Linked DNA regions of Homo sapiens: regions 1, 2 and 4 are each linked to region 3. Evidence: fine-mapped expression QTL. A gene starts in region 3. Each other region holds a variant in brackets. All regions are shown on one strand. Distances are from middle to middle. Region 1 overlaps NELL1 (neural EGFL like 1). Region 2 overlaps NELL1 (neural EGFL like 1). Region 3 holds the start of NELL1 (neural EGFL like 1). Region 4 overlaps NELL1 (neural EGFL like 1).

What was found. PIP is the estimated chance that this variant, and not a neighbour inherited with it, causes the effect. A credible set is the group of variants that fine-mapping cannot tell apart.
Region 1: its variant is the best candidate, but not a certain one, in a credible set for the expression of NELL1 in testis (GTEx, PIP 0.59).
Region 2: its variant is the best candidate, but not a certain one, in a credible set for the expression of NELL1 in unexposed skin (GTEx, PIP 0.64).
Region 4: its variant is the best candidate, but not a certain one, in a credible set for the expression of NELL1 in lung (TOPMed, PIP 0.77).

The regions. Positions count from the first base shown.
Region 1 is chr11:21,280,904-21,289,291 of GRCh38, forward strand. The region is part of intron 14 of NELL1 (neural EGFL like 1); the gene reads left to right. It also overlaps the pseudogene LOC100631258. Among named protein-coding and RNA genes, the nearest start is that of NELL1-AS1, 23 kb to the left of the region's middle. The variant A/C (reference allele first, on the strand shown) is at 3,664.
Region 2 is chr11:20,844,092-20,852,479 of GRCh38, forward strand. It overlaps NELL1 (neural EGFL like 1), which reads left to right. Exons shown (of 20, transcript NM_006157.5): 4 at 3,492-3,662. Among named protein-coding and RNA genes, the nearest start is that of NELL1, 180 kb to the left of the region's middle. The variant A/G (reference allele first, on the strand shown) is at 3,917.
Region 3 is chr11:20,664,910-20,673,297 of GRCh38, forward strand. It overlaps NELL1 (neural EGFL like 1), which reads left to right and starts at 4,677. Exons shown (of 20, transcript NM_006157.5): 1 at 4,677-4,869. The coding sequence starts at 4,815.
Region 4 is chr11:21,391,716-21,400,103 of GRCh38, forward strand. The region is part of intron 15 of NELL1 (neural EGFL like 1); the gene reads left to right. Among named protein-coding and RNA genes, the nearest start is that of NELL1-AS1, 130 kb to the left of the region's middle. The variant C/T (reference allele first, on the strand shown) is at 4,119.

The DNA.
Region 1 (8,388 bases), 620 kb after region 3:
ATGTCCTAGTCCTGAACTGGACTCAGAGCCAGTGGACCTGGAGAACAGGCAACCTATTGAGACACCAGCCAGGCCAGCTAAGGGAGTGCTTGCACCGTCCCTCCTCCAACCCCAGGCTGCACAGCTTACAGTTCCCAAGGAGACCCCTTTCTTCTGCTTGAGGAGAGGGAAGAGTGGGGAGGACTTTGTCTTCCATCTTGGATACCAGCTCAGTCACAGTAGGATAGGCACCAGTCACAGTCAGAGTCATAAGGCCCCCTTGCCATGCCCCAGCTCCTGAACATCATTTCTGGACACCCCCCGAGCCAGAAGGGAACCTGCTGCCATGAAGGTAAGGACCCAGTCTTAGAAAGACCCTTCACCTGCTGACTAAAGAGGCTTATGGTAATAGTGGCTGTGAGGTGAGGCTCCTCTGCCTGTGGAAACGGGAGGGAAGGGTTGGAGGGACTGTGTCTTATGATTTGAGTGCCAGTTCAATTGCAATACAATAGAATACCAGGTAGACTTCTAAGGTTTCTGACTCCAGTCCCTGGCTCCTGGATGGCACCTCTGTACCCAACCAGGGCCTGGAGGAACTTGCTTCCCTGAAGAGAAGGATGCAAGCCTGGCTGGCTTCACTATCCACAGATTGTAGACCCAGGGCCTTGAGTGAACTTAGGGGGTAGCCAGTTAGTGGTTACAGCAGACCTTGGACAAGGCCCAGTGCTTTGATGGCTTAAGGACTGACCCAGCATAGTTCCAGTGGTGGTAGCCACAGGGGTACTTGTGTCACTCCACCCCCAGATCCAGAGAGAGAGAGAGACTCCATTTGTTTGGGAGAAAGTAAGGAAAGAGAAGAAGAGTCTCTGCATGGTAATCCAGATAATTCTTCCGGATCTCATCTAAGACCATTAAGGTGCTACATCTAGGAGATGCCTATCTCTCGTCATATACAAAAATAAATAAAAATGGATTAGACTTAAATCTAAGACCTCAAACTATGAAACTACTACACAAAAACATCAGAGGAAGTCTCCTGGATATTTGCCTGGGCAAAAATTCTTCTTGTGTAATAATTTACACGCATAGACAACAAAAGCAAAAGTGGGCAAATGGGATCACATTAAGTTAAAAAGCTTCTTCACAGCAAAGGAAATAGTCCACAAAGTGAAAGACAACCTACAGATGGGAGAAAATATTTTGCCAACTATCTATCTGACAAGAGATTAATAACCAGAATATATAAGGATCTCAAACAACTCTATAGGAAAAAAAAATCTAACAATCTAATTAAAAATGAGCAAAAGATCTGAATAGACGTTTCTCAAAAGAAGACATACAAATGGCAAACAAGCATATGAAAAGGTGTTCATCACTGATCATCAGAGAAATGCAAATCAAAACTACAATAAGATATAATCTCAGGCCAGTTAAAATGACTTATATACCACCACACCTGGCTAATTTTTGTGGTTTTAATAGAAACAGCGTTTAGGCTGAGGCACGGGAATCGCTTGAGCTTGAGAGGTGGAGGTTGTAGTGAGCTGACATCATACCATGCACTCCAGCAGGGGCAACACAGTGAGACTCTGTCTCAAAAAAAAAAAAAAAAAAAAGGCTTATATGCAAAAGATCAGCAATAAGATGCCGGCAAGGGTGTAGAGAAAAGGGAACACCCAACACTGTTGGTGGGAATGTAAATTAATCTGACCACTATGGAGAACAGTTTGGAAGTTCCTCAGAAAACTGAAAATAGAGCCACCATAGCATCTAGCAATCCCACTGCTAGGTATATACCTGAAAGAAAGGAAATCAGTGCATAGAAAATATATGTGTACTCTCATGTTTGTCTCAGCACTAGTCACAATAGCCAAGATATTGAAGCAATGTAAGTGTCCATAAAGAAATGAATAGACAAAGAAAATGAGGTACTTATACACAATGGAGTACTATTCAGCCATAAAAAAGAATGAGATCCTATCATTTGCAACAACATGAATAGAACTGGAGGTCATTATGTTAAGTGAAATAAGCCAGGCACAGAATGACAAATTGTGTATGTTCTTACTTATTTGTGGGAGCTAAAAATTCAAATAATTGGACTCATGGAGATAGAAAGTAAAGGATAGTGAAAGAAGCTGGGAAGGATAGTGGGGGAGTGTGGGGGAGGTGGGGATGGTTAATGGGTACAAAAACTAGAAAGAATGAATAAGACCTAGTATTCACTAGCACAACAGAGTGACTGTAGTCAATAATAATTTGTGTACATTTTTAAATAACTAAATGAGTGTAGTTGGATTATATATAAAAGATAAATGTTTGAGGTGATGGATATCCCATTTACCCTCATGTGATTATTATGCATTGCATGCCTGTATCGAAATGTCTCATAGCAATCTATAAATACATACACACACTATTGTACCCACAAAAATTAAAAATAAATATTTTTTAAAAAATTAAAAAATAAGATAGAACAAATTGAGCACTCTCGTGTGGGATTTTGGTAGTGGAAGAGGTTGTGCTTATTTTGGACCAAGAGAAAACAGGACATGTTTGTACCCTCCACTCAATTTCGCTGTGACCCTAACACTGCTCTAAAAATAAAGTCTGTGTTTTTAAAAGCATGTGATACAGAGTTTCACACACTGAATTTGTCTAGTGAATTATTATCTAGATCCAAAATAGTTGTATTTTCTACTATATAACACATTACATCATCTGTCTAGCTATCTCTCTCACAAAGTAGAATGTCTGTGAAATAGAACACAAGGAAGGAGAGAGAATTATGACCCAAGCAAGAATCATGGGTCCAGAATTCCACCCAAGGAAGCTAGTTCAAAGCCAGAGAAAGAGCACAGCTTTTCACACAATTGAATAGATCTCAACTTCATGATTTTGGTATTGAAGATGCTGACAGTAGCCAGTGGCTCTGTGAAGGCAATTTTCCAACCTACCATTCTTGGCTACTCCTGGGATATTTTACTTGGCTGTGAGATCCCCCTGAGAAGCTTCTCTTTTTCTCACACAATTCCTCCATCAGCGAAGTGTGGTGGGCAGCACACAGTGACTATGATTCCTGGAGATGGCACTGGGACTGAACTTATGCTGCCTGTCAAGATTATGTTCAGACATGTGTGTGTGCCTGTGGACTTTGAGGGAATGTCAGTGACCTCCACCTCTGCCTCACATGAAGAGGAAATTCATAATGCCATCATGGCAGTTCATTGAAACCGTGTGGCTTTGAAGAGTAGCGTTAAAACTGACGACACCCTGCCACCATCATACAAATCCTTCAACAACATGTTGCATACCACCCTAGATCTCTATGCCAGTGTCATTCATTTAAAAAATTTGCCAAACGTGGAGACCTGGCACAAAGATGTAGACATCCTAGTTGTTTGGGAAAACACAGAGGGTGAGTATAGCAATCTGGAGCATGAGAGTGTGAAAGGAGTGACAGAGAGCCTAAAGATCATGACTAAGGCCAAGTCTTTGTGCATTGCTGAATATGCCTTCCAGCTGGCCCAGAAGATGGGATGCAAAAAAGTGATGGCTGTGCACAAGGTCAACATCACGAAACTGGGAGATGGTCTCTTCCTCCAGTGCTGTGGGGGAGGTGGCATCCCGCTATCCTCAGCTCACCTTAGAAGACATGATTGTGGAGAATGCCACAATGCAGTG[A/C]GTATCCCAGCCCCAACAGTTTGATGTCATGGTAATGCTCAGTCTTTATGGCAATGTTATCAACAGTGTCTGCACAGGTTTGATTGGTGGGGCAGGCCTTGTGCCTGGAGCCAACTATGTCTATATGTATGCAGTGTTTGAGACAGCTTCAAGGCAATGTGACAATTTAGTCAATACAAATCTGGCAAACCCTACCGCCATGCTGCTGGCAATTTGTATCATGCTGGATTACCTCAAACTCCACTCCTATGCCACCCACATTAATACTGCAGTCTTGGCATCCTTGGACAACAAAAGTGTCCACACTGCAGACCTTGGAGGCCAGGGTACCACATTGGACATCATTCAAAACATCATAGACCACATTTGAAATGTCAATTAATTGTTCTGTGCCTTGGAGGCTAAGCTATCCCTCAAAGTCTGTCCTGTCCTACTTGTTACCTCCACTCTTTCTGCTTTAAAAACCCTAGCCAGCTTAGCTACTGCAGACTCCACAAGAAACCAGCTTATCCTTTAATTCACAAGCAGGGCAGGGTGGGGGCCTGTGTGAACCAAAACTGATTTTTTTCCCATTAAATTGAAATGCCATAAAAATTTTTTGTTTAAATTGAGGACAATTTTATCTAAATGAATTGAGGACATTCTTATCTATTTTAGTCCACAATTCTCCCTTCTCTACGATATTATATACTGAATAAATCAGAGCTGTTTGTGGAGTCCTGGGGCTTTCCCAGAGCTTGGCACACTGATTTTCTCTTTATCTTGGTCATTAACATTCAGCAAACCAGCCTGCAGAGAAGCCTGGCTTCTCTCTAGAGGTCGTTAATGAGTTAATTAGTGCAATAAACTTTGCCTAAAAAATATACATTGTAACTTTTCTAATAAATAGGACAACATACAGCAGAGCTGACATAGAATGCTTCCACTCCTTCCTAGATAGCCCATCTTTCCTATGGTCTTATTTATGACCTTTACGTTAGGAATTTTCTCCAGTGTTCTGTTTCACACATGAACATTTTTAGGCACTGCAGCTCTTCTGGAAAGGGGATTCTTGAATTCTTCCAGCTGGACTCAAGAGTGTAGAGGTCAAAACCCCAGTTAACAGGCACTAGACCCACAACATTTTGCGAAACAGAGAACTATCGATTGTAAACTCTTTGGTCAGTGTTTCACAGTCTTTTACGGTTTACTTTCAATCTTTCAAAGAAAGAATGTGTGTATAAAACAAAACAAAAGAAAACAAAAAGCACTGAGCTAAATGTTTACTGTCACTTTATCCTATTTTATTTGTAGTATTTTTTAAAGTTATAGTTGGGAGACAAACTAAAATAACTTTATTGGTGCTTGGAAATTGTTACTTAATTAGGAAATTAAAAACACAATGACTGTAAAAACTTACAGTAGTTTTATCAGTAGGAAAGGCCTGTAGATAGAAATGAGACAGAGAAAAATAATGAATTCTACATTGTGGAAATGTGTGTCTCGCCTATTACCTTTGGATCTCTGCCTGGTTAATAGGTCACAAGTTAAAGACACTTAGACCATAGAAAGTTTCTTACAGTTTCCACCAGGCTCTGCCTTAATCATATTACCTTGGTCTAACCTTTCCTAATTGGGCATAAAGTCAGGGCCAGGATTTGGACAACTGAAAGCTAGTTTGAGAGGATTTAGTCTGAAAAGAAAGTGACTACCTGAAACCCTATCTAGAAGTCTTTCTTGAAGAATAAGGCAAACAGGAAAGAGTCTATGTATAAAATGACCCTGATAGTCACTTTACTGGCCATTAGACATGTCACTGTCCAGGGCTGCCACTAGCCCAAATGGTGCCCACCTCTGGGCTGATCTAGACGTGCACCAAAGGCATGTTCTTTTCAAGTGGAGCAAGGGGCGGATTTTAGCCAGATGGCCCCCTGCACCTCCAATGCCACGCTAACTGATCTTACTTTAACCCATACTATCCACTCGTACCACTCTTTTTTATGATGACAAGGATTTATTTATGGCACAATCAGCTTAACAAAAGACAGTGGCCCAGTTGTTGGCTTCTATTTAGCAATGGGGGTTTATGATACACTTCAGTTAAAATTTCTCTATCTGTTAAAGATGGTCATTTTCAGAATCCCATTGCAATTCTTGGACCAGACTGCTGCAGTGACACCTAGTACACCATAGTAAAATTTTTCATTTCCACTGTTAGATGCTCTCACTTAGATATGAACATCTCTAGGGTAAGCTCCACGTGTTTTCTTTCCTTGTCCTTTGTAGTCTGTAACATAATGGCTGGTACATAATGCATGGAATACATGTTTGTTGAATCAACCAAAATATGAGTGTTATGGTTGATACCGCTACACTTTTTTATCTGTAAAGTGTGATAACTGTACCTGCCTTATAGGGTTGTTGGAAAGACGGAGAAAATTCACGTAAAACCTGTGTTGTTGTGCCTATAAGTGCTTAGTGTATTTTAGAAATTATTATATTCCTTATTACACAGAATATACCATTCTAAAAGATAATTCTGAATAGAACTGAGTGAATTTTATTAATTCATTATAGATTTTTGGTTTGCGGCCAACTTTTAAATAGAAAAGCAAATCATATCTGCTGATTCATCAAGTCTCCTTATTCTAGCTCCTTTTTATTTCTTGAATCTGGCAACCCCTCTTTTTTTTCACCAACACCTTCTTCCTCATTAGCTTTTCTTATCATTGGTAACTTCCTAATTTCTCTTACTGCAAGTATAGCTTCCTAACTGATGTCTTGCCTGTAGTTTAGCCCTGTTCAATCTATTTTCACAATGCATCCAGCATGATCTTTCTGACAGGCAAAGAGATCATGTCCCTTTCTTACTTAAAACCTTTATTCAAAGGCTTCATTTTTTCTGTAAAAGAAAGGCAGTGGAGCATAGCATGAAAACCATCTAATGTTCTGGCCTCATTTTCCCTTCCTCAGGTTCACCATGTCTGTCCCCCCACCCTCATTCCAATATCAATGCAATGTGGCATTCCAACAAGACTATAACAGAATTTATTGTTAAAGGACCATCTATTCTCTCTAGATCAGGCCTTTGTATACAGTCTTGGTTCCTTTCTTCTTCATTAGATGAATTTCTCCTCATGCTTCAGGACTCAACTTAATCATCACCTTTTTTGGGGAGTCTTATCTTTTTACCCCTCTTCCCATTTTTTGCTGAGATTGAGGGGGTAACTCTCAGTGTCCCCTGCCACAGCTCTCTATATACACTATCTAGTATTTATTTCTCTGATTGTGATTACATGTTTTATCCCCACCATCCCTCGTTAACTTTACTGTACAATGCATCCCTTGGCAATAGGAGTGAAGTCATTCATCACTATAGCATCAGAACCTAGGATAGGGACAGGCTCTTAGTTCATACTCACTCTAAAGAAAAGAAGAGAATAGAAGGAAGGAAGAAAAGAAATAAGGGAAGGAAAGAAGGAAGGAAAGAAAGAAAAAATAAGGGAAGGAAGGAAAGAAGGAAATAAGGAAGGGAGAAGGAAAAAAGAGGGAAGGAAAGAGGAAGGAAGGAAGGGAAGGAATGAAAGGAAGGAAGGAAGGGAAGGAAAGAAAGGAAGGAAGGGCTTACTCCTAATGGCTTAGGAGTAGGGAACTGGAAGAGCTAATCTATTGCAAAATGCTCTTGTCTGACTTCAGTCTATGAAACTATCTTACAAAATTACTCCTCTCTAAAGAAGACTAAAGCCCTCAAGTCAGTAAAACAGTTGGTTGGCAGGCTGCCTCTGTTTCCTGAGAAAATGTCTGTACTGCATTTGTTGGATAATTTCATCTTAGCCTTTATCAGTTTACTGTGCTTTGTTTACAATTCTGGTGTTATAAAAAATGGCATCAACAAGTTGTCTGATTTTTCTCTAAATTACTCCTTCTCTTTACAGATTTGTTTTGGTTACTGGTCTTACAAATTACTCAGTCATTCAGATTTAATAGCTGACTGACATTCATCCCAACTCTGCCACACAGGAGCAGTGTGACATTGGATAAGTTGCTTAACCTCTCTGATTTCTAGTTGCTTATCTGTGCAATAAAGGTAAATGTGTACCTTCATGGGATTGTTGTCAAAATTAAGTAAGATTGTTTTGGTTGTCTATTGCTGTAAAACAAACTATCCAAACATTAGTGAGTTCGAATGACCAGCAATTATTTGTCATGATTATGTAGATTAGTCGGGGGGTTCTTCTTATCAGCAGTAGGATGGCTAAGAGCTCCAGAATCACCTCATTCACATGGCTGGCAGTTGCTACTAATGATTGTCAGTCAGGGGGCCTCCATTTTTCTCCACCTGGTTGTCGTATGTGGTATGTGGTATTTTGATCTCCTCACAGCAATGGCACCTGGGTTCTAAGAAGGAGTGTTCTAAGAAGTGAAGACCAAGGCTGTAGACCTCTTAAGGCTCAGACATGAAAGTTGCTTAATGCCCTTTCTACTATATTCTGTTGATCAAATTAGGCAATAATAGGGTAGACCAGATATAAGAATGGGGGAACAAATTCTGACTCTTGATGAGAGAATGACAGGGTCACATTACAAAGGGGCACATAGGTGAGGAGCACTATTGATGTGACCATTTTTGGAAACATGCTCTACCACCATGAAAATGTATTTAAAACTCTTGGGCAAGATGGCCCAATAAAAACAGCTCCAGTGTGTGGCTCCCAGCAAGATCAATGCAGAAGGCGGGTGATTTCT
Region 2 (8,388 bases), 180 kb after region 3:
CAGGTGATAGTGTCACTGTACTTTGCATTAGACCACATCTGTACAAGTGCCTTTATTCCTGGATGCTGTATTTAAGTGGAAAATTGATTCATTTGACCATGCCTAGCGCATGGTGACCAACATGGGGAAGGCTGCAAAGAGGAAGAAGGCAGAATCCTTGTCCAGGAGGGGCTCATAGTTTAGATGGAGATGGGAGTATAAAGGAAGGAGCCAGGGAAGCTTGGCTTGAAACAGAAGAGGGAATATCACTGCTGTTTTCCGATATTTGCAGGATGAGCAGACTTTTCTGGGAGCGAAGGCAGTTTGTTGGAACAACACACTTGGCTGAGGTCCAAGGCTAAGGGCTTGCAAAATCTTTTGCTTACAAAATCTGGCTTATAATTTTATCATTTATACAGCTGCCCTCCCCAGAGACTCTTGAAAAGACCCCAATACACCTGAGTCCTGAAGAATGAGGACTGGTGAGGGGTAGATTGCTCACTAGATCAGCCTACTGTCACTTCCAGTGTCCTCCTTCTACCTGGCAGCGCCACGTGGCTCCTATTCACTTGCTCGTAGCGTCAGACTTCTGCTCCCTTCATCAAGACCAGCTGGCCAGGAAGTAAGGCAACACCTGGCATACTACTATAGTGCTTCTTAAACACAGATGTAAACATAGAACATGAATCATCTGGGAGTTTTGTTGGAATACAGATTCTGCTGCAGTAGACCTTGGGGTTATCCCAATAATCTGAATTTCCACAGGTGATGCTGCTATTGGTGTTCTACAGACCACCCTGAGTCACAAGGTTCTACTAGAAAACATGAGTCTTCCCTCCAGGCTACAGCCAAATCCCATCAGGCCAAATGACTTTCTGCTCAGAGTTGCCTCACATCTTTATTTGTAGAGCATTACTGCCTGGAAATATTGCCTTATTTTCCTCCTAGCCCTCATGAAAGAATTTTATCCAGATGTCACTTAGCCATCCAGTGTTTTTATTATTGCTAAGGCTGCTTCAGCAGTTATCTGACATGTGTTTTCAAAAATATATCATCTTGATTTTCATCCAAGTTGCATGAGATGCAGCACTTTTTGAATATGTGCAGGATGTGGCCAGAAACTTTAGTCTAAGATAAAAGTATCATTTGCCTGACATTAGGACAGACTTCTTTTCTCCTAGCTATATATTTGTGATTACCCCAATGTAATCACTGACTCCAGTGCTTTATAAAGTGATCTTTAAGAGATCTGTTTATAATACATTGAACACTTGCTCAATGAGGCCACAACCCCAAGAATAATGATGAAATCTGGTTAAATGTATTTGCCTCCCTCTTTAATGATTCCAGCAGGTGACTTCTGTGAGTATTTCTAATTGTCATTGATTGAAGCCCTTTCAAGGTCATGTCCCTTCCCCAAGTAATTGCTTATTGGTCAAAGTAAAGTAATTGAGAGATTTCTCATGATGTGTGAATCCTGGTAGGATCTCAAATATAAGCTCGTGGTGCATTTCTATACAGGTGCTAAATGGTCTTGGGCAAGATACTTAATATCTTTGATCATCTATAAAATAGGGATAATGAAATCTACCTTAAAGAAATTAAAAAGATGATGTCTATGAAAGCACTTGCCATATTCCTGGCACATGACAATCATTCATTAAATGACTTTTCTTGCCTCCTCATTTGTTCCTTTTAGGCCATTTTTCACCCTTTTTTTGGGGGGGCCGTGGGGAGGGACATATTTTACTTCCTTCTTCACTAGTTCACAAAGCACCTTCAGACATGGGATATATATTTTAAACCCCTTTTTAGTTTTTCATTATGTGTTCAGTAAAGACATATTGAATGAATTAATGAATGGCCAATAGTCTGTAACATCTTCTTGACCTCTAAGTTCTCCGATTGTTTGATTCTTCAGTGTTCTAACAACTTAGAAGAAACTGGAGAATTCCCTTAAAATAAATGTCTTCTTTGTTAAAGCATTTCCTTTTGTGCAGTCTTATAAAGTATGTATTACATAAATTATTACTAATAAGTATGAACCTGGGCCTAGAAGCTGGCTGCTATGGTATAAATAACCTCTTTTAGTTTATGACCTTGGGCATGATTCTTTGTACTGGTGCAAATGAGGTGGGTCAGAGGCTGGTCTTGACTCTCTGCTTGCCCTTCACTGTTTACTTTGGAAAGATCTGTGAAAGATGAGCAAGAAATATGTATTTGTTCTTTGGCATGACTTTTGGGATTCAGGCACAATAGACGCTGAGTTTCCTGATATATTCATTTCATTCCTCATAGAAGATGCATTTTGTCTTTTAGATTAAATACCCTTTGGCTTGTGGGGTTAGCCAGCTCAGTGGATTAGAATAGAAGCAGCAGGCCCTTCCAAATCTAGGGGTTAAGCCTAGTTACCTGTCTAGGCTAATCGCTCTGGAGTTGACCATATGAATGAGTTGTTGGAGTTAGTGCCTGGTGAGGCTATCCTCACCACTTTGTCATCATGCCTCTGGGATGGGCAACAAACTGGCAGAAAGTGCATACACTGTCAAATTTAGATCTAAGTTTAAGTCTGGTTTGGGTATGTTTAATCCTTAATCTCAGTTTTTAAGTTTTTTAAAAAAGATAATACCAGTCTCAGGTTTTTTGAGTGATAAATTAGTATATGTGAAATACCTAGTGCAAGCCCTGGCAGTGAGATCAGGCCCAACGTTGATGACAATGACACATTTCAGAAGAGAGGCATAGGAAACAAAATAGTTTTGGCACCTGTGAAAGTACTAGCCCTGTTGTGTGCCTGAGGAGTGTCCCAAAGTTGCTTGTAGCATTTTATGACTGAAGTGCAGACCACAGTGGTAAGGCTAAGAATTTCTTATGGGTTTGAAAAACAGGATCATAATCCTGGAAAAGAAAAAACTTAATTGCATATTTCATTCTCTGATAATTTGAAATACTAATTCCTATGTGACTAGCTTCAACCTTTTCTCCCCTACTCATTATCTAGGAATTGTTATTCAATTATATCTTTTTGTCTACAGAGAAGAAAAAAGACTAATCTTTTCATTCTGACAATGTATTTCAATCCCTGATGTCCAACATGACTTCCATTTCCCTTTAATTCTTGAAAAGGTAAAGATAATAGTTCTGAAAATAACCATCAATAGATCCATTCCACATGAATGGCCTGTTTTAGACATTCATGGAATGAGGGTTCTGATTTGTACTTTGAAGTATTTAAGAAACACTGCACTGAGTTTTGCTAATTAGCTGTGGCTTGTTACCTCATGGTGGACCAATTGATCTCTGTTTCAGAGGCTCAAGATGTTGCCACGAGGGTTCTCAGACAATAGATTCATTGGGTGTCCTACAGTGAATTGACTTGAGGTCTTGGCTCTTTGTGCCATGTTTAGCTAATTTTAGATTGTGAGAGACCTGGTAGTAAGGGGTTGAGGGATTGATGATGGCTGTGATATCCAGAACTAAAATAAAACAAATGTTTGTTCCTTTACATACAGCTATTTTGAACTGGAGAGCAGTGGCCTGAGGGATGAGATTCGGTATCACTACATACACAATGGGAAGCCAAGGACAGAGGCACTTCCTTACCGCATGGCAGATGGACAATGGCACAAGGTTGCACTGTCAGTTAGCGCCTCTCATCTCCTGCTCCATGTCGACTGTAACAGGTATTTCTTTGTCTTTGAGTGTTGCTGATTCTGCCCTTGAAATCAAGCAATGGAAAAGGGGAAAAAATATCAAATTCCTTCAAGACTTGCCAGGAAACAAACACCAAGGGACCCTAATTGTAATTTAACCTACCAAATGGGACCTTAGGCATGCTGAAATGACCAACTGTAATATGATAAGAAAACAGTTCATTAAGATGAAACTGTATCCCGTGATTAGGAGCAAATGTACAAAAGGTTGATTGCAGATTGGG[A/G]AATAGTAAGTGCACCTCAGTGTGCTCCAGGCACTGGCTGGAATTCCATGGAGCTGTGATCACAGTTAACGGTGATGTATTGTTGTTGAGTTCGTTCCACTGGGAAGCGAATAAGCTTGTCTACCCTGGAATGAATCTGAGAAGCCTGTGCCACTGAAGCAGCTAATTCTATTTCACTTCATCAAGCTCACCTTTGCTTAAATATCTTTTCCAAATGGAGGCTTCTTAAAGAGGCTGTTCTCTGAGCCTTTTGGAATTGATGCCAGGTATTTTCTCCAGAGGAATGAGCCTTCCAGCTTGTCAGGGGATGGTGGGACCAGGGGGTTTCACAGGAGGTTTTGGGTTGGGGTGGGATGGAAATGTTGTCTCCCTTGTCTGTCACTGGAGCCAGGTTTAATGAAAATTGAAGAATGAGGGAGTCCATTGGTTTCTATTGGATCATTTATGGCTGGACAGCTGGATAATGGTGTTCAAGGGGAAAGTTTTTATCTCTCCATAACCCACTGAAGATCCTTATGGATAGTGACCCGAGTCCAATTACAGAGTTTTTTTTTGCATTCTGAGCAGTGCCCATGCATTGTTGATTCTCATTAATGATGCCATCAAAGTTAAAATGACTTTTCAGCCACACAAGGCTTGCTCCCTTGAACCCAGGATAAAGAACAGGCATATTGGGGATAGCCTCCCTTCCAAAAACCATCAAGAGGAGAGATATTCCAAGGTCAGTCAGCTTCAGACCGCATTTCTCATGAGGAGATGCTTGAATATGCCTGCCACTCTAGCTCTGCAGTCTCTTTTAGAAGAGTTGGAAGGGCAGGGAACTGTTGTCAGGCTCAAGGGAAGGTTTGCCATCTTGAGGTGAGTCTTGGTCCATTTTGATATGACCTATTTAAGGTGCTTTTTAGACTTCTGAAGAATTGTGGTTTCCACCAGATATAATAAATATGTCTGGACAGAGTTTCCATAGAAACCACTAGCTCCTTTGTACACTGCAGACTGGGGCTGGGCAGCCTGGATAAAGCCAATGCTTAGCTGCTATATCCATTTTCACTTTCAAGAGCTCATTGCCCCCTTCAATTCTCTAGAATTAAAGTGGCCTGTCCGGCAACACTCCTATGACCCACTGTGACCTACCACCCACATGCTGTCTAAATGGGATTGCAGAGGAAGAGCCCTGCTTGTCCTTCTAAGCCACAGGACAGAAAGAGGCCACAAAACCCTAGTTTCGTAATTTCCAACTTAAGAGTCCTGGAGATACTGCTGTTTTCTTGCTATGCAGTTTTTTGTTTCTTCCTTCTAAGAGTTTTACTCTGTTTCCTGACATTCTTCTCTCTGGAGCAGTTCTTAGGTGGTGCTTGGCCTTCAGTGCTCAGTCTACATTTGTGGTGGTTGTTGTTATTTACTCTGCATATCAATGGCAGCTCTTTGACCCTGCCTTCAAACTTTCATACTCTGTATGTCCTTCATGGAAACCATGACCTCTCTACCAGGAGAGTGAGAAGAGGATAGGAGATCTGTAGTTCACAGTATTCTTTAGAGTCATTGCCATTTATAAAGAATTGACTGAGGGTATTCCAAATATTCCTTCTGTTTTCTTAATATTTTTCATACTTTGGCTTGTGGCATAACATGTCCTTTATGTAAGATCTTGGAGGGAAAACTTATGAAGTTGCTGCTAGTTAATGATTCGTAGACTCTAAACACAAATACATTTTTCAGGTAGGTCAGGAGAAAAAATGGACCCAAAGACTGGTCATAAGAAAAGTAAATTTTGATTTTCATGTAGGAAAAGGCTAGAAACATGGTTCCAAAATCTGACTATACCTAAGAATTACCTGGGGAACATATTAAAAAAATGGATAACCAGGCTTTGCCTCTGACCTACTGGATTAGATTCCCCGAGGGCGGAACCTGAGAAGCAATATTTTTAACAAGCCCTCCATATAGGTTCCATGCGGGCAGTCTACCCTTGGTGAATGGACTGGCATTTCCAAACCACTGGTTTAGAAAGAGGGGAAGGAATTTGGTGGAGAGGCTGGGCTACAACAAATAAATGAAGTCGTGGAAGACCAGTTACCTGAAGGAGGGTAAGAAGGAGAAAAGGATTAAGGAGAGGGTAGTGTCTAATGCACGAAACAAACTTTACCTTCTTCACAAGTTTCTTCCCAGCCAGAACTTGCCAACTTTACAGTAGCAGAAGCTCTGTCCCATATATCAAGATGCTGGTTCTATCACTTTTAGTCTCAGCCACCCTCACAGAGAGTGAATTTCAGCTATCCATTACTACTTTGTGATTCTTATTTTTTGATCCCTGTTACTCTTAGAGTTTTTCTCAACCTCTCACCCAGTAGTGTTCTGCTGATTAGAGTATGAAAGGAGATGATGTTAGATAACATTTGATGTTGATTGTGCTAGGCACAGTGCTGAGTACTTTACATAGATTAACTTATTCCATACTCATTCTATTAGTTTTTCCTCTTTTTAAGATGAGGAAACTGAGGTTATATATTTGTCTGTAACCCTGCTACTAATAAATGGCAGCACCAGGATTTGGACCCAAGTTTGACCTATGAGTGTCTGCATCTAGCTACTACTAAGCTATTTAGCCCAATAGTGGGGACCATTGACACTTTATTTGGTACATGAGGGAAGGCCAAGATTCAATGTGAGCAGTTTGTTCCTTTCTAATATTTCCCTGCCACATGTCTTATATTGCTAATCCTGGGAGCTGCTTGGAAAGATGTGAAATCTAATTGATGGAACCCTTTACTTTGGTGCTGGAGAAGGGATATACATTTATTGAGCCTCTACTATAGGCCAGGTAATGTTCTAGTAATAGTATTCCTTAGGATAACCATATGGGGACAGTTTTACTAGATGCATTTTGCATATTTGGAAATAGAAAAGCTCAAGATAAATAACTAGGTGTCAATCACATAATATAATAAGCATATAACCCAAACTTTGAGTCTGAAACTATCTCCAAAACCTTAGTCTAACCCACCCTCCAGGTCACCTCCATAGTGTGCTAATGACATGTACTGCCAAAGACAAGGTCACAACCACACCAGGGAGTCTTCCCAAGGGAGAGATACTACAGAAGGTTCAGGGACCATGAGAACTCTAAAATCGAGAAGAAATTTCCCAGATAATTCCATTGCTCTGAGGAATATTAATGTGGCAGGATTTCGCACATTATTTTTTTAGGTCAGAATTGAGGAACAGCTTTTTCAGACCTAATTGTACAAATTGTCACAAGAAAAGCAAACGCTATTTTAGTTGGTAGTTCAACACTTTCTGCTTGCTACGGAGACACTTTTCTCCTTGTTTCAGCTGTTTAGCTGGGCTTAGTTAGAAGTTCCTGATGTGTGGATAGCAGATTACCTCAAGCTAGAAACATAGAAGGAACCATTCAGTTGGGTGGGGAGACTGATTATCTCCATTGCCTTGGGTTTTTCTCCGGCTACCTTTTATATTAAGAGTTGGCAACAAAGCCTGGAATGGAACCTGAAGAAACCTTCCTTAGATTCACCCTCTCCCTTCTCAGCTCACTTTACAGCCTGTCTCTATTACTCAAAGGACAGAATCCACCAACATCTGGGATTCAGTGCATAAGCAACCTTTCCCTTTCACAACAAAATGAATTTTATTTCCTTCTCTTTATTTGTAACTTTTAATTTTCATTCAGCCCATCAAATTTATTTATTGGGTACACTATCTCTGCCAGGCTGTGTAGGATACAAGGAAATAAGAGTCCTTGCCACCAGGAAGTTCTTGGCTTATTCATTTAGTCATTTTAACTTCGTTCTGAAACCACCAGAGCCCCTCACAGTGATTGGGCCTAGTCCCTGGGTATCAGAGGAAGCCTGGATGCAGACAGGAGCCCTGTAAGCAGGCTGATTTGATAACTCGCAATGGCAGCTGAACAGTGGAAAGAACTGGAAACAGTGAACTCCCAGCATCTTGGTCCTGAAGTGACAGTGGAGCTGAGCTCCTCAGCAGCTAAGAGATGGATGGCTTTTAATTCACCCAGCCTTTGGCCAGCACTTTTTGTAATATGCCGGCATCCCTACCCTGTGTTAACCTCCTTATGCCTCATTGCTGGAAAAATTCAGCTCTTAAGTGCAGTCTATCACATTTCAACTTAGCTCTTATTTTTTCAGACTTGTTCAAATGTGTATGGCACATACACACACATCTGCAGCCCGATTGTCACCTTGACAGAGAGTTAACAAGTGATTAGTCTAGACTAGACTAAACATACTTATCTTTTACTTTTAACACATGCTATTTATTATCCATAGAGCACATCCAATTTTTGCATACAACTGATCTTGAAAAGCATGCAGAATCCAAAACTAAACTTGCTACAAATCAATGAATGAGTCAGTAATTTAAGGTTTCTATCTAAAATTTCAGAGTAATTTCAGGATGTGAGCATCTGTTTATATGTGTAGACTTTTCATAATGAA
Region 3 (8,388 bases):
CCTGGCAGAACATGCATTGATTCATTCATTCAACAACATTTAATGAGCTCCTAAAATGTGCTAGGCACTGTTCTAGGTGGAAATATACGTTGGTGAACAAGAAAGACAAAATTCCTATTCTTGTGGAGCTTGCATTATATTGTGTGTGTGGGGGGGACAGAACGAATAAGTAAACATATAAATCATATTATTTTAGACAATAACAAGCACTCTAAAAAATAAAGCAGGGTAAGGAGGCAGAGAATGTTGGGAGTAAAGTGAGAAGCTTCTTTAGGCAAGGTCTCCTCAAAGAGCTGACATTGAGACGAGATTTGAGTCAGTGAAAAGTGAACCTTCCAGGTAGAGGGGACAGCAAGTGCAAAGATCATGAGGATGGTATGAACTTGGAATGTTTAAGGAACAAGAAACACTGGAGTGAGTTAGGGGGAGAATGGGGAGAGAGGGACCTGGGAGGAGAAGCAGGGGTGATATAAGATGTTTGGATTTTACTAAAATATGATGGAAAACTCCAGGAGGAGTTTTGAGCAAGGGAGTGTGATATGATACATGTTACAAAACACAGACTATGACTGCTGAAGGTGGAGGTGACTGAATTATACGGGGCAAGAATGGAGGCAGAGAGAAGCATTGAGAGTCTATAGCTGTAGGCTATGGGAGAGATAATGATGGGTTGGAGGAAGGTGGGAGGAGACCTGGTGAGAAGAGAAATTTGACTGGGGATTTTTCTTTAAGGTATACTGACAGGGCTTGATGCCTTGTGTGTGGGGGCTAAGGGCAAGCAAGTCAAGGATGACCCTGGGTTATGTAGCTGGAGCACTTGGTGAAGGCTCATGCCATGTCCGTAGAAGTCAGCAGTGGAAATTTAAGACAAGGGAAAAGTCAAAAGTCCTTAGTTGGCCATATTACAATTTTTTGTCATGATCATTAAAGTATTTTAAAAAACAGCTTGAGATATAATTCACATACCATACAATCCACCCATTTAAAGTATACAATTCAATGGTTTTTACTATATTGTGAATATATGTGAGAGTTTTACATCCATCACCACAATCAAATTTAGAGCCTTTTCATTACCTCAAAAATAGCCCCTACACTTTTGAGCCATTACCCCCTAATCCTACCTCCCTGGCCCCAAGCCCTAGACAACCACTAATCAGATGTTTTGTCTCTATATATTTGCCTCCTGACTTTTCATAGAAATGAAATTGTATAATATATGGTCCCTTGTGACAGGCTTTTTTTCACTTAGTGTGAGGTTTTCAAGGTCAATGTTGTAGTATGTGTCAATGCTTCATGTCTTTTTATTGCTGAATAATATTCCATTATATAGGCATACCACATTTTATTTATCCACTTATTTGTCAATGGACATTTAGGTTGTTCCTACTTTTTGGCTATTTTGAATAATGCTCTAAACATTTATGTACAAGTTAGTATATGGACATATGTTTTCATTTACCTTGTGTGGATATTAGGGATAGAGTTGCTGTACAGCAACTCTATGTTTAACTGTTTAAAGAACACTTTACATTCTAACTAGCAGTATATGAGTTCCAATTTCTCCACATCCTCACCAACATTTATTATCTATTTTATTCTAGCCGTCCTAGTGGATGTGAAGTGATATCTCACTGTAGTTTTGACTTGCATTTCCCAGATGGCTAATGATGTCGAACATCTTCTCATGTCTTTATTGGCCGCTTGTATATATACTTTGGAGTAATATCTATTCAGATCTTTTGCCTATTTGCAAATTGGACCTTTTATTGTCTTGTATTATCTAGTTGTAATAGTTTTTTAGTAGATACAAGTTCCAATCAGATATGTCTTGCAAAGATACTTTTCCATCGGTTGTTTTTTTTACTTCATTGATGGTGTACTTTGAAGTGCAAATGTTTTTAATTTTGATGATGTGGCCATATTATATTCAAGATGTCTAATAGGTAGTTAGAGATGTAGGCCTGGGGTTCAAAATAGAGGCTGGGGATAGAGATGCATATTTGAGAGTCATCCCTGCACAGATATTTAAATCCATGAGGTGGGATGAGCTTAATAGGGAGGGAGTGTGGCGGGAAGGGAAGGGTTGAGGAGTGAGTCCTGGGGCTCTCCAACATTTAGAGGTCAGGAAGAAGAGGCAGAGGGATAATCAAAGACAACTACTGGCTCCTGAAGAACCCATGGAGGTAGGCCATCCTGAAGGGGAGGGTGGACTTGGGATCTGGCATCAGGTAAGATGTTTCAGTGTGGCTTCCACCGAACACAGGTCTCACTGTAACATTCCACCACCAAGTACATACATAGCCATGTGTCCCTTCATTGTCACTAGAGAAACTTGCTGGGCCCATTCTATGAAGGTCACCTTAGCTTAACAGACCTACACACTCAAAATCCCCACTCAAGGGTTGCACTTATAGGAGGAGATTGCAGTACTTAGTTATCTAGAAAAGATTTATGACCTTGTTGAGATTAACTCTTGTTACTGTTAATGGATGTTATGCTGCAAAGCTATGACAGAACATATGTCTTGCTTTATTTTTTAATGGAACAAGCTAAAAGTCCCATCCCACAGGACCAGCTAATTACACAGAGACTTTAAAGATAGAGAGCTCTGAAGATCTTACCCAGACCACCTTTTCCCCTTGCTGGGGTCACTGTACTTTTAAGGATTCTGGGCTTTCTGAAATCAATAAAAGGGCCTTGGAAACAACAGTCCAAAGCAACTCAAGGCTGTTCCTGCTGAGGTGTACTTAAAGACTGCAGAGGAGAGACAGGAAATGGCTCTTATAATACAACATGGTGTATGGTGTCCTTGTCCACAAGGCCCAACAAGACTTGGGAAATCCTATTCTCTTCAAGATGTGTGATTTTAATGTTAGCTTTAAATGCAACACGCTCCGGGTGGAAGGAAAAACACGTGGACTCTGTTAGTGAAAATACAGAGTCAAGGCAGACAGATTTCCTTTGGGTCTTAGCCGAATCTGAGTTGGAGTCAGCTGACATCAGTTTACCTCTTAATCATTCAGCTCAACTTCTGGATTGTGCAGTAGACTTCTTGAGCTGGAATTTACCTGCTTGTTCACTTTCTTTTTCATCTGCCAAAGGACCACAACATAAAGGGCCAAATGGGACAGTGGCTTGCACACAGAAATATCCAGAAAAATAGGGCAGAGACCAGAACAGCATGCTAGTAAAGCCTTCTCTCTTAATAAGCTGCGCTGATTTGGTGAACTTCACTGGGGCTCCTGGGGTCAAAGTTGTGTAGGGGTTAAGGATATAGGAAGTGAAAGTGGGTGCAAGTGAGAAGGGCACGTTCTTATTAGTGAAGAGGATTCTGAAACGTTGGAATTGGTTTCCAGGAAACGAGGGACGGCTGTTCTGAGGTTTCCTTGGACTCCTCTGGGATCCCTGTTGTGAATATCAAAGGAGTACTGCTGGTGAGGGGGAGCGGGGGCTTCAGAGAGAGTGGGAAGACTGAGCAAGCTAAGTGGAGTTCATTTGGTATAAATCAGAGGCTGTCATTTCAGATTTCATGACTCTACATATCCAGTTATAAATAACGTTCCTAGGTGTTAGTAGGACAAATAGGAAGTGGGACAGAAGTCTTAAATTTGGGGGATCTTCATAGGGAAGGTCAGGTCCTGAAAGGGTCGCATAGAGGGGAGAGGACCCATTCTCTTCTTGCCGGCAAGTAGAAAACAAAGCCCAGCCCAGCTTTTCTCTCCAGAGAATGTTGTGGTGGGAGAGGGAAAAGAAGGTGGAGGTCCCGGAGGAATTGCACATGGGGCCAAAATGTGACTATGAAAGAAGAGTGGGCTTTTGATAATACCATTAAGAAAATCACGCAAGAAAGAAAAAAAGATGGTTAGGAATTACCCCTATGTGGCAGCATCTGCCCTGCAGAATGAGAAGGTTTGCAAATAGACTTCCCAAACCCCAACCACAGCTCGCTCCGCCTCGAGGACCCCTTTTCTGCACCCCCACCTCAGCGCCCTCTTCCTGCACCCACAAAGAGAGTACTCAGTCATAGGGGTTCAACAGGAGAGAGGAGACAGAAGGTACAGGCGGTGAGCAGGGACTCAGCCATCATCCCCCTCAGGTCCCTCCCCACCCAGTTGACAGAGCGAATCCCGAGTAATTGTTTTCCGAGGGGGTCCGTGCGCGCTCGGTGGCGCCGCCTCGGTCTGGGTTCCCCCGAGGAAAAATACCCACCCGCGAGGGCTCGGCGGCTTTTCGACTCGGCGGGGATGAACTGTGGCAACTTCGGCAGCCCCCACCGCGGTGCGGAAGTAAAGAGGGCAACATTGGCGACTGCGGCTCGGAGGGGCTGGAGCGCGTGAAGCCGTGGGGGCGCCGTGCGCCTCCCGCTCTCTCGTTTCGGCCGCAGGTCCTGGGACTCCGACTTCGGTGCTCCGGGTGATAGCGGCTGCGGCGCCTGCAGTCCAGATCCTCGCAGTTCTGCGGGCGAAGGAGGCGAACGGAATCGGCCCCCAGTGGGGAGCGCAACAAGCCACAGTAGCCAAACCCCGCGCTCCTGCCCGGGCTCCCAGACGAACGCAGCCGCAGCGGGGGGCCGGGCCCCGAGCCCCACGCCGCCGCCGCCGCGCCAGCGGTGGGGGGCGGGCTGGGGGCGGGGCGGCCGGGGCTGCCTTCCCGGGCGCATATGCGAGCGCAGCACCCGGCGCTGCCGAGCCACCTCCCCCGCCGCCCGCTAGCAAGTTTGGCGGCTCCAAGCCAGGCGCGCCTCAGGATCCAGGCTCATTTGCTTCCACCTAGCTTCGGTGCCCCCTGCTAGGCGGGGACCCTCGAGAGCGATGCCGATGGATTTGATTTTAGTTGTGTGGTTCTGTGTGTGCACTGCCAGGACAGGTAAGCATGACTGTGGCGGTTAGAGGGATCCGGGAAATGGGGGTGCCCACAGACCACGGCGGCGTGGGGAGACCTGGAGCCGAGCTTTGCGCTGGTCTGGGGAACGGCGGTAGCGTGGACCGGTTCCTGGGATCTCTTTGCCCTGCTCGGAGTGACAGGGTGAAAATAGGGACTCACGGGCTTGAAGATGTCCCCGTTGAGTGCCCCTTCTCAGGGGACCCGGCCTCAGGGGCGCAGGAGTGAGGGGCGCGGCCGAGTAGGCGCACCCTCTTGCTGCTAGTAACCGGCTTTCCGTCCCAGGGAGTCGAAACCCGCAGCAGGGCGGGCCCGCGTGCCCCGAGTTCCCGAACTTGTAAGGTGCTGTGGAAACCACTCTCGCCGACCCCCGCCAGGCTGGGAAGGGGTAGCTGCGGGAGTCGCACCCGCAGAGGGAGCGCTTCCGGCTGGCGGGCGCGGCCGGGGCCCGGGAGGGCGCGGTGCGGCGAGGGCAGAGAGCTGCGGGAGAACCCTGGGATCCCGCGATCTCCTCCTGTGCCTTCCTGACTACCCAGGAGAACTCCAGGAGTATTCTCCTCCGCCTGTCTTTGCTCCCAAGGGCTGGGCGAACAATTATCTGAGGGAAATAGAGCAGTGGAGACAATCTGGGGAAATTTTCTCAAGCTCAAACCAGTTTTCTCTTGCCATAATCGCAGGGTTCCGTGTGGGGAGGGGGGAGCAAGGATGACGCTTGATTGTCTGAAGTCCCCACTTCGTTCTGCCTCCGGAGACGCAGTTGTGAGGACTCTCAGCGCATCTTCTTCCTTCTGCTTCCACCGGCTCCCTTGCCCAAAAGTCCCCTGGGGTTCGGAGACTGGCTTGCAGCCGCCTTCTTCAAAGAGCTAGTAGTAGATGCGGGGAGACTGGGGTGAGGTGAGGTGGGGTGAGATGTAGGAAATTGGCAAAAATAGGGCCTGTCAACTGGGGGGAGTGTCGGAGGTTTGCAATCCTACCCAGCCATCCTCCGTACGCGCTGCACCCCAGAATCTGTGTGGTCATTCCCTTTCCCTTTATTCTCCCCCCTTTACCATCCTTATTTCCTTCTTTAGAGGCGTGGCCTTCTCTCTAGGCCAAAGAGCAAGTTCATCTGGAGAGGGCTAAGAAGGGGCGTCTGCACTTGGTTGGCTCAAAAGTTCCCTCCGCTTGCGCCCAGGCGCCCCTCTTTGGCAGTTAGCCCGCTGGAAGATCTAGCGTCTAGGAGCTTTCAGAGGGCCCTTCCCACTTCCCCAGGACTGAGCAGGCAGCGGCTTTCGTCTGGTTAAGAATGTTGAATATGGATTTCTCAAGGGACAAAAGAAACCTCCCATTCCGTTCCTTACCTCTATCCGAGCTTCCCAGGCTGCGGAGACGCCAAGGCTCAGTCTAGCTTAGAATAGTTGCTTCTTGAGTTCAGGCCCATCCGGATGGGTTAGTCTTTTAAAACCAGGACACGCTGAAGGAGTGCGCGCACCCCAGGAAGATCAGGACAGGCAAGACTAGTGCAGAGCGTGGGCTACTGGCTCTGAGCGCGAGAGTCTGGTGCTCGTGGACATCTTACAGAGGAACCGCAGACAGGAAGAAGCTAGGTAGGGAGGGGGCAACCCGTTAGTGAGTTCACATCCCTAAGTGCACATCACTACGGAATATGCCTAAATCCTTTGTTCTCATTACTCCTTTGAAAAGTCGCCAAAGTACCCTTATCACGGAATGGAACGTGTTTCAGGGTTCATTGCTTGTGGAAGGGGTCTTTAAGAACAGGTATTTTCCCTCTTTCCACTTCCAATCCCCTTTAAATCTTGTAAAAATTTCGTTGTAGGGGAAGATTCATTCATGTCTTTACTCATTCAACAAACGATGTCTTGCTGGGTGCCAGGATTTCTTATGCAAAGAGGAAATGACAGTCCTTGACTTCTAGGAACTTAAAGCTCAGCTGGGAATCTAGATAGAAACTGGCAGGCATTTTAATTTTACAGATTGATGGGGGGGGTGGTGGAGAGGTAGGAGTATAAGTTTGTATTAAGGAAATGTGGAGGAGAGACAGTTTGAATTAATTCTAGGGAGGAGTGGTGGTCAGGGATTTGAGAGATGTACCTTCAAGGCTTTCTAGGGAGTTTTCCAGGTGGACAAAGTGGGAAGGCATTCTTGGCAGAGGGAGCAGATTCAGCAAAGGCAGGGAAGCATGGAAGGATCTGACCCACTGGTTGTGGCTGTTGCCTAGGGAGCTTGGGTTCTCAATGTCACTTGGCACTATTTGAACACTAGAGGCCGCATATTTCTTCTACACACATTATCGGAAGAATCAGAGAGACGGGGGAATTACCTCTCAATTTGTACACTTAAAGTATCTTGTAGCTTGAGAGGGTATAAGCGGTAGCTTTCTGGAGGCAGCCCTCTGATTCTGTGCAGAAATCATTTCCACATCATCCATCCACCCTCTTCTTAGGTAACAAAGGCTGGCTTGTGATTATCAGCATCCAAACAGCTGCGTTGAAAGTTTCTTTGTCAAGTGGGACAATTGTTGTCTGGGCTGTTAACAGTCCTAGATGAAATAAACATGTGGTTCACTTAGTGAGCTGCTCAGATATCACCGGCTTTTAATGGAACTGAGTAGATGATATCAGGCACATTTTAATTAAAGCAAGACTGCAGTGCAGACACAGTTGCATATGAAAAGATCTAATGATAGGTGTCATGAGGAGCTGCTTAAATCTGCCTTGTTCAGAGAACTTGTTTTAGAGTGCAAAGTGGAGTCAAGACGGGAGGTGCCATTCTCCAGTTCTTGTTATTTCTGGTTGAGAAATAATTCAGAGATTTTCAGGTACATCACTAATAATGAAAATTTAGAAGGCTACAATAATAGCAGTAATAACACACTATCTCTATGAGTTTTCACCAATGCTTTGGCAGTGTGAATAATTGAAAACTCAATAATTATTCCCACATTGCTTTCCAGTTTGTTTTGGTCACCAGGGCAGAGGGTGAAGGGAGTACCTACACCTGCAAAGCCCCTACTGACCAAGTGAATGTCTTTTGCTGCCACCTGCTGGAAAGGAGAGAATTTTTTTTTTTTTTTTTGAGATGGAGTTTTGCTCTTGTTGCCCAGGCTGGAGTGCAGCGACATGATCTCGGCTCACCACAACCTCTGCCTCCTGGGTTTAAGTGATTCTCCTGCCTCAGCCCCCCCCCCCCCCCCCGAGTAGCTGGGATTACAGGCATGCACCACCACGCCTAGCTAATTTTGTATTTTTAGTAGAGATGGAGTTTCTTCATATTGGTCAGGCTGGTCTCGAACTCCTGACCTCAGGTGATCTGCCCGCCTCGGCTTCCCAAAGTGCTGAGATTACAGGTGTGAGCCACTGCGCCTGGCCAAGAGATTTTCTTTTGGAAGGAACTCTCAGGTGGATCATTAATTATGAATTGAATAATGGAACTGTGAACATGAGCCCCCAGCCTCCAAGGATCATGGAAAATACTGGCCAGCTTGGAACAGGCATAGAGCATATT
Region 4 (8,388 bases), 730 kb after region 3:
CTCACTGCAGCCGGGCTCACGTGATCTTCTCACCTCAACCTCTGGAGAAACTGGGACTACATACAGGTGCATGCATTTTTCCCTTATCTTCACCTTTTCTTAAACATTCAGTAGTCCTTGGTTATCTGCTGATTTTTCAGAGTGCCACTTATGAAAAGTTGATTTAAAGCTCAGTTTACCTATGTGGGATGCTGATGTCAATGATTTTAGGTTCATTCTTTTGAACCATTCAGATCTTGTAGGGAAGAGTCTTTCTGTTTCCTAGAAATCAATCCTATAAATTAATTAAATTTCTGGAGCAATTAAACTTGATTGCTAGCATTCTGAGAGTCAGGTCGGAAGAATAAGACAAAAGATTGTAAAATTCAGTTTGTAAATTTTTAATTAATACCCCTGTCTCAGTATAGTATTTCTGCTCTCAACTATGTTCTGACCTTTGTGGTACCCTCTGCTGAGACTAAATCTCTAGTGTTTGCTGGGGCAAAAGAAAGGCAGTAGCCTGGCTGGGGTAAGGAAACAGCTCTGAGGAATCTAACTGCTTTTTAATCTAGCTTCCAATTAATTTTCCTATTTTAGCTTCACTGTTCCCCATAGTTTCAGAGATACTTGATGCCACCAATTACTGAGTCCTATGCAATAAGTTGCTTCTTGGCTTTCTCCACTCCAGGCTATGAGTCATTTTCTCCTGTCTTCTAAGTGAGTTATCATTCATCCACCTCTTTTCTAGATTCCAAAATTATGTTACTTTTATCATTTCTCCTGTGTGCTTTACCCAAGAGGGTTTATATCCTTTATAATTTGTCTTTAGTATTATCTCGTTAGAGTTTGAGGGGAAAAGTAGGGGTAAATATGATTATTTAAGCCAGTATCTTTAACCAAAAGCTAGCCCCTTAGTTCTGAAACTGTTTCTTTCCCATAGATAAAAAGTCACAAGAAGTCCTGGTCATTGTGATAACTTATATACAATAATAATATAACTGACCATAAAGATAGTCATATGATATAAAATGTCATCCACTTTCAAAGAAAAAAGGTTAATGGAATGAATACAATTTTATTTTATACTGCATGACATTTACTCTTTACAAAAATTTATCAACAGAGACTTTCTGCAAAGATAGACATTTCCCCTTTGGAAGTAGAGTATTTATCTAATTTCAAAGACCAATAGAGCATTATTTAAGATATTAAATGTTTGAATTATTCTTTTAAATTTGCAGGATGTTATGGGAAATTGGGACTATAAACTGCCATTCCACTAAAGATAGTTAAGTCAGAATTTTTTTTTTTTTAAGCAAGAGCTATTTCACATGAAATTTTATGTGAAATATAATTTCAAGTGATTTGGACGTGAGCTTTCAATGGTTTAAAATACGACCAATGGAATGTAAATAAGGGGAAATGGGAAATGGTAAAGGGAAATATAGTGCATAATTGGGGTTGAAGGACCATCAAGATGCCACAGAGATGAGCTCTGAGATCAGTCTTATTTAACAACTTCATTAATGATCTGGAAAGAGAATTCAACAAGTTAATTAAATCTGCAGATGGTCCTTTGTGGAAGTTACAAATACCAGGGAGAACTGAGAAATAGTGTAGAAAGACCAGGGGGTCAAAAGCTTTGATAGCTGTGGGCACAGAAGAGCAAAATTAAATTTGGGAAGGGTAATTACAATTAAATACACTTTGTTCAATGAAAAAAGTAGTTAAACTGCAAACAACGCTGAATAGAAAACAGTAAAGCTAAAAAAAATTCTGTGGCTGATGAGCAATTTATTTAGATAAGAGCAAAGCTTTCTGACTATAGAAATAAAGTTATTTTTAAATAAAATGTACTTTATAATGTATTTGTTCTGTGCCTAATAGTCAAAAAACAGGGATTTAGTGACCTGCATTTGGCTAGTGTTAAAAAGACAGGAAAGCATTGCTCTAACTCTCAGATGTGCTTATTTTCTAGTACAGTAGATAGATTAGAAACTCATGAAAATACTCTAATATATCCTGAGATTAAGATTGGGAAATGATGGGTAGAGCAGTAGAGCATGAGGGGAACTTTTGAAAGATGACTGACTATGAAATAGTTGACTTCCACTTTTAAATATGGGTGGTTAGTGTTAACGTGCTAGGTGGTTGAGAAGATTGGCAGGTACTTTTATATCCTTTTCTGGTAGTACCTTTGACTATGGGAAGTCCTCTCAGGTCTGGGTATTGGAAGAGCTTCTTTAATTTTGAAAATGTGATCAGTAGTTAGAATTCTACCAAGGCCTGGGGGCAGTAGAGCAGACTGGATGAAGTTATAATGGTAATTATTAGAAACGGAAATCAGATATACGCAAGGGCACACATAGGCAAAAGGTCAATCACTTACTGAGTATATTGCCTGTGCCAGGATGGCTCCAAGTACTTCACATAAGTTAACTCCTTTACTTCTTACACTCATCCTATAGGATTAGACATTATTCTTATCTCCAATTTGCTATTTAAAAAATCCTGAAACCTAGAAAATGTAAGAAAATTACATAACTTTAAGTGCTAATAAGCACAGGACAGTAGGATTCAAACCCAGGGAGCCTGCTTCTAAGATTTATATGTTTATTTTCCCCAGCTATGTTATAGTATCTCTCATAGAATATTACCATAAATAATATATACAGAACTCATGTAAGGTATATATACACATAAATGTATACATATATATGTATGTATATAGCCCTATATATGTGTGTATATATATGGCCGTGTGTGTGTGTGTTCCATTCTTTAGAGTTCTAGGGGCTTGTCCAAGACAGACTGGACCCAGAGGCATGTTTTATATGCAGCTCTTATTAGCAGAATTGTCCTTGTATATAAAGTATGTGAACAGAATTTGTTGTCTACAGTTTCCAAAAAAAACATTATCTTAAGGAGGTGTGTATTGTATCTGGGTTAATTGATGATGGGTCTCTGGAAGGGAGACACATTAGCTAATAAACACATAGCTGAAATTACATAATTTCATAATGTCAGTCTCTACTAGTGTCACTAAGGGTAGAATCCTGAGTCATCATGTTTTAAAATTTAAATATTAACATCTTCAAGAGTTAACACTTATGCATGCTAGAATATTCAGATATTCTATAAGCTTAGTTAAGGATATACATTGAAAATCTTTATATTTGTCCACGAGCTACAAGTTCTCCTACCCAGAAGGAGCCAGAATCACTAGTTTCTTATATGTAGGTTAATAGGCTACCAATTGTAGTGGGACTCAGATAGTATGTGATTGTTTAGATTGATGAGGATATCTTGGAGAGGTATATACAAGGGATATTAAATGGATTTGAGAGACTGAAAGTAAATTTCACAGTTCTATTTGTTAATAGCTAGCATGGACAAATTACCTATGAAAAGTGTACAGAAAACCATTAAGAAATAGAAAAATGATTAAAAAGGACAGCTGTATTGGAAAGCAACAAGTTAGGAAGGAGAAATCTAGAAGATTAATACTGAGAAGAGCTGCCTGGGGTGACTGACAGCTTTAGCCTCACCATATCTGCCCTCTCTTTGAAACTAGTCAGAATTTCTCAAGCTTCTCCAAATGAGATCCTGAGTTAAGAAGAATTCTGTGTTTGTAATAAGGTGAGGTGGTTTGAACTGAAACTTAATCACATTTAGGAAAGTCAAGTATCCCTTCTGGGAGAGATCAAGCAGATTATGAAATGATTTTAGAGAACTCATAACAAGTTTCTTCTAACTTTTACATCTATATTTGGCCAAATAAAACACATGGAAAGAAAGTCCTGTTTTGGTCCCTGGGGCAAAAGACTTAAGAAATATTTCTAACTTCTGTTTAAATGATTCAGTTTCCAAGGCTCACTTCACCCACTAAAATGGCATTGGTGATCATAAAGAAATTTCTTCATGATACAGTGGAATCGCTTCTATTATTCTAGTAATAGTAATTTCTCTATTATTTACTAGTATACAGGAAATAACACAAGTTATGCCACAGAGTGTAGAACCTTGAGAAACATTAAATATTAAAAGCATAATTCTACTTTTTGACATCAGTGGAAATTACATTGGCCTCTCTGAAAAAAACTCCTCGATTGTGTCTCAAAGATGGAGCCTGAAAAAAA[C/T]AACAAAAAAGCAACATCAATCCAAAAAAAATCAACCAAGTGTGAGAATTTATTGATTAGAAAAATAAAACAAACAAAAAAACAAAAAAAGATCAACATTAGCTGGGATGACATGTAACCTAGAGAGACCAAGTCAATTCATGCAGACTTAAAATGTCAATACCTTCTTCAATTCCAGTAGCAAGTGGTTGCAACTTCTGGCTGAGGCAGTTTTCACTTCTATATACCTGGCAATGGAACTTCCTTCATCAAATAAATGAATTTTTGCCCCAATGCCTTGTCATCAAAGCATCAATAATTGAGTAAACCATACCCTGTGAACTTGCTCATCACTTACATTGTTACCTTTCTCCTAAAGTAAAAAATCTACAGGGCACTAATCTCGTAGGACAGGAGCTTTGAAGGCAAGCATTTTCTAATTTTCCAGTGCCAGCAACTGAATTCACCCACATTTATATGATTTCTTAATTCATTCACATATAAAATAATATGTTGAAGCTCAGGAAACTCGTGGCAAAAAATATAAAAGAATCTATGGTTAATTTAGTGAATAACAAATGGTTTCAGAATGCTAGACACAAGAGCAGACACAGGTTTTATCTCAGCAAGACAGAAGATTGATAAAGGAAGGACTAAGGAAATACAAGATCTGGCCACAGGGCCATTTATGAATTGCAGAACCCACATGTATTCGTTTGTCACGTCAATGGTTTCTGAGTACTTGCCAAGTACAAAGATAATTTAAAACAAGTGCATATTAGGAGCATTAGGGGAGATAAGAGAGGCACATAAATAATTATTAATGCATGATTTAAAAGTGATAAACTCTGTATGAGAGGTTTAGATCTTTGGTAGGGTTTTAGAAAAAGTATTGCTTCTGTTTCTGAGGATTGGAGAAAGGATCAGGAAAATTGTCATGAATGAAAGGCATGTGTACGGAACATTAAGGAATGATTTAGACATATCTAACTCAAACTGGAGAAGTGACATTCCAGACAGAGAGAATGCCATAAAAAAAAAATTGCAGCATGAGACTGTACGTAACACTGTGGTAAAGCTGACTAATTTGGTTTGAAAGCTAGGTGGGATTGTACTTATTTGTATTAACATCAGATGTAGAGGGATGAGTTCCTATCTTTTCCCTGATGATTTTAAGGAGTATATATGAGAAAAATATTAAATAGTAGCAGAGTTGAGGACATTATCATCTTTCTATCATGAAATAATGTGTCAAAAGTTTCTTCTTAACTATGTTTGTAGTAAGTTTTTAATGTATCACTTTCTTTACAAAAAGTTCTCTTCTTTCCAGGGCTGTAGCATTTTATAAGACACACGAGGAATCATATAGCTGTAAAGACTATGCTAACTTTTTATTGCCATGCAAAGTACATCAATGATTTATTGTTCTTTAAATAATTAGCATATTAATATATAACATGTGAAGACTGAGCATCAGGCATGAATAGATTCATAATTTTTTGGTACCTCTTAAAGCTTCCATTGATTTTTGTCATTTAAAAAATTAATTTAAAAAGTAGTATATTTTTATTGTAAAAAATGGGAAAATATGGAAAAGCAAAAAAGAAAATTAAAATTACTCAGTCTTTATACTAAAAGAGGAAATATGTATATTACTCTATTTACTTCCACCTAGTATTTCCGTGTACGTACACTTCTAAATTTTTGTCAGTGAAAAATACATATTGTATTATTTTAAGTCATATAAAACACATATAAATTATATCACAAACATGTATCTATATTAAATATTTTATAATTACACAAATAGGTTTTATAGCCATGTGTGCTCTATCACATTTTAAATCATTTAAAATTATACCTTGATATGGTTTGAATGTTTATGTTTCCCTAAAATGTATGTGTTTAAATTTTCACCCTCAAAGGGATAGTACTAGAAGATAAGGCCTCTGGGAAGTGAATAGGTCACTTTTGGATATGATTAGTGCCTTTCTAAAAAGACCTTTGAAATTGTGACAACTGCCCTTATATTAGAGGCCCAAGGGAGACTTCTTTTCCTTCCACCATGTGAGGTTAGAGTGAGAAGACAAAGCTCTCACCAGATACCGAATCTGCTTGAACCTTGATCTTGGACTCTTCTGTCGCCAGAATTGTGAGAAATAAGCTACCTAGTCTACGATATTTTGTTATATCAGGCTAAATGAACTAAGATCTACATATTAAAAATAGTATATTTATATATTATATAAATTTAAAATATGTATTTGCAATTACCAAGAATCAACCTGTATTTTTTAACTTTGTTAATGAATCATAAACCATTTTTAATTTATGAACGAGATTATACTAGTGAAAATAAAGGACTTTTTGGCTTACTCACCTGAGGGTGGTGTCCTCCACTGGCATGCCCATAGGTGGCTTTATAGATGGGCACCATAGTTCCAAGCATCATTCTCTGAACGTTGGTACAAAGTGTGTCCCCTGAGGCTCTCTGTATCTTTAAATGTTCATTAAAAAATATGACACGTATTGTTCCTCCTATTCTGGCAATCTGAAAACCTTGTGTGATTCACTCCGTCAGCTCTTCTGTTGGGTGATTCATAAATGTGCATGAGTCCAGCTTTATAGAAAGTTTCTGGAGCCATGGGAGTAGACACTTTTGTCTTGGTGAGAAAAAAGATCCAAGAGGGAGCATAAATTAGGTTTGGAAAGAATGAAGTCAGGAGGAGGATCAAAGTAGACTCTTCCCAGGCAAAAAAGCAAGGGCCCAGATAAGACCTCAGAGAGTTTGAGTGAGGAGGGCAGTTAGAAGGAGCACAAGATCTCATTAGAACAGAGATTCTGTTCCTACCAATGATCAGCTGGTCTTTACAATGTCTGGCAGATGCTCAGTAAATGGCCTCTGAACAGAATTGAATTTTAAGTTCCTTTGTATAATGCTTAAAAATCTACTTTTGTTTTTACTTCATATTAATATCTTCCTGATTTAAAAGGTTATTTCTATTCCATTCCTGCCTCATGTGGCCATTTCCCTATTTCTCTTTGCTTCCAGTTCTTTACACTTTTAAGTGAATTTAAAGCCAGTCAATGATTTTCATAGAACTAATTGAAACTAACAATTCCCAGGTAATCCAGTTATTCAGTGGCAGTTAGTGACAGTACTCAGAATGGTTGTTACAATATTCAGATTTGTCTTTTGGTGGTAAGAACAGCCATGTCTCTTCTGAAGAAAGAAAAAAAAAATATTAGACGAGCTCAGCAGATGTAACCCACTGTATCTCCAAACACTTCTCTTGACGTTTAGCTGCAAAGGGCCAAGGAAAATAAAGCATTACAAGGGTGGTAATGGAATATGGTAATGGAATATAAAATATCAATTTAAGGTCAGTTGTATATCTACAAGTAGATTCAACTTTGTGACTGATGAGTAGGGAGGAAGCAATGAATTGGGTGTTTGGGTTCATTACTAGTATCTAGGCATTTTGTCAAGTTGTGTCGGTGGTTGACAATCGCTTCAGTTGCTATTTAGGTATTGCAATGTGTTAGCTTAAATTAAGTAGCCAAGAAATGCATAAGATTTAGGACCAGACACAGGAACACCTTTGAATTGTTATTTCAACATTAATGTGTATCATTAAGCAACTTTCATAACATGTTTGGTTCTTAGCTTCTTCACCTGTCAAGTTAGGGAATCATTGCTAAATAATTTTTTAAAATATAAATAAAAATAATAGCCAAAATGTATTGAACATTATATACCAGATGCAGATTTAAGTGCTTTCACATGTGTTTGCTGATTTAAGCATATATTACTAATTTCTCCATTTTACAGATAAGGGAACTAAAACAAAGAGAGACTAAGTAATTTAACCCAAGTTTATATGGGTGGAATACGGCAGACCTAGGGCTTGAATTTAAGCAATCTAGCTGCAGAGCCTGTACTCTACTGTCTTTTACTGTGCAATACATCTCTCATTTGTGAAAGCTATGATACCGATGATGGAAAATAACGGCGATGCTGCTGATGGAAGATAATGATGATGTTGATAATGGAAGTTGATAAGAACGCTGATGTTAACTCAAGAAAATAACATTACTGACACCCTGACCTGGGAAAGTCGATTTTTCCTCCTAGCTACTTTAATGTAGCATTACTAACTAGTTTAGGATCTATAGATGGGATGTGTATGCAAATATAAAAGATTATTTCTGTATACTATGCATTATTGGTGAACTACTCTATGATTGTATACCACTTTAAAATAACTTTTAATTCTGTTTTTCCCTTAAT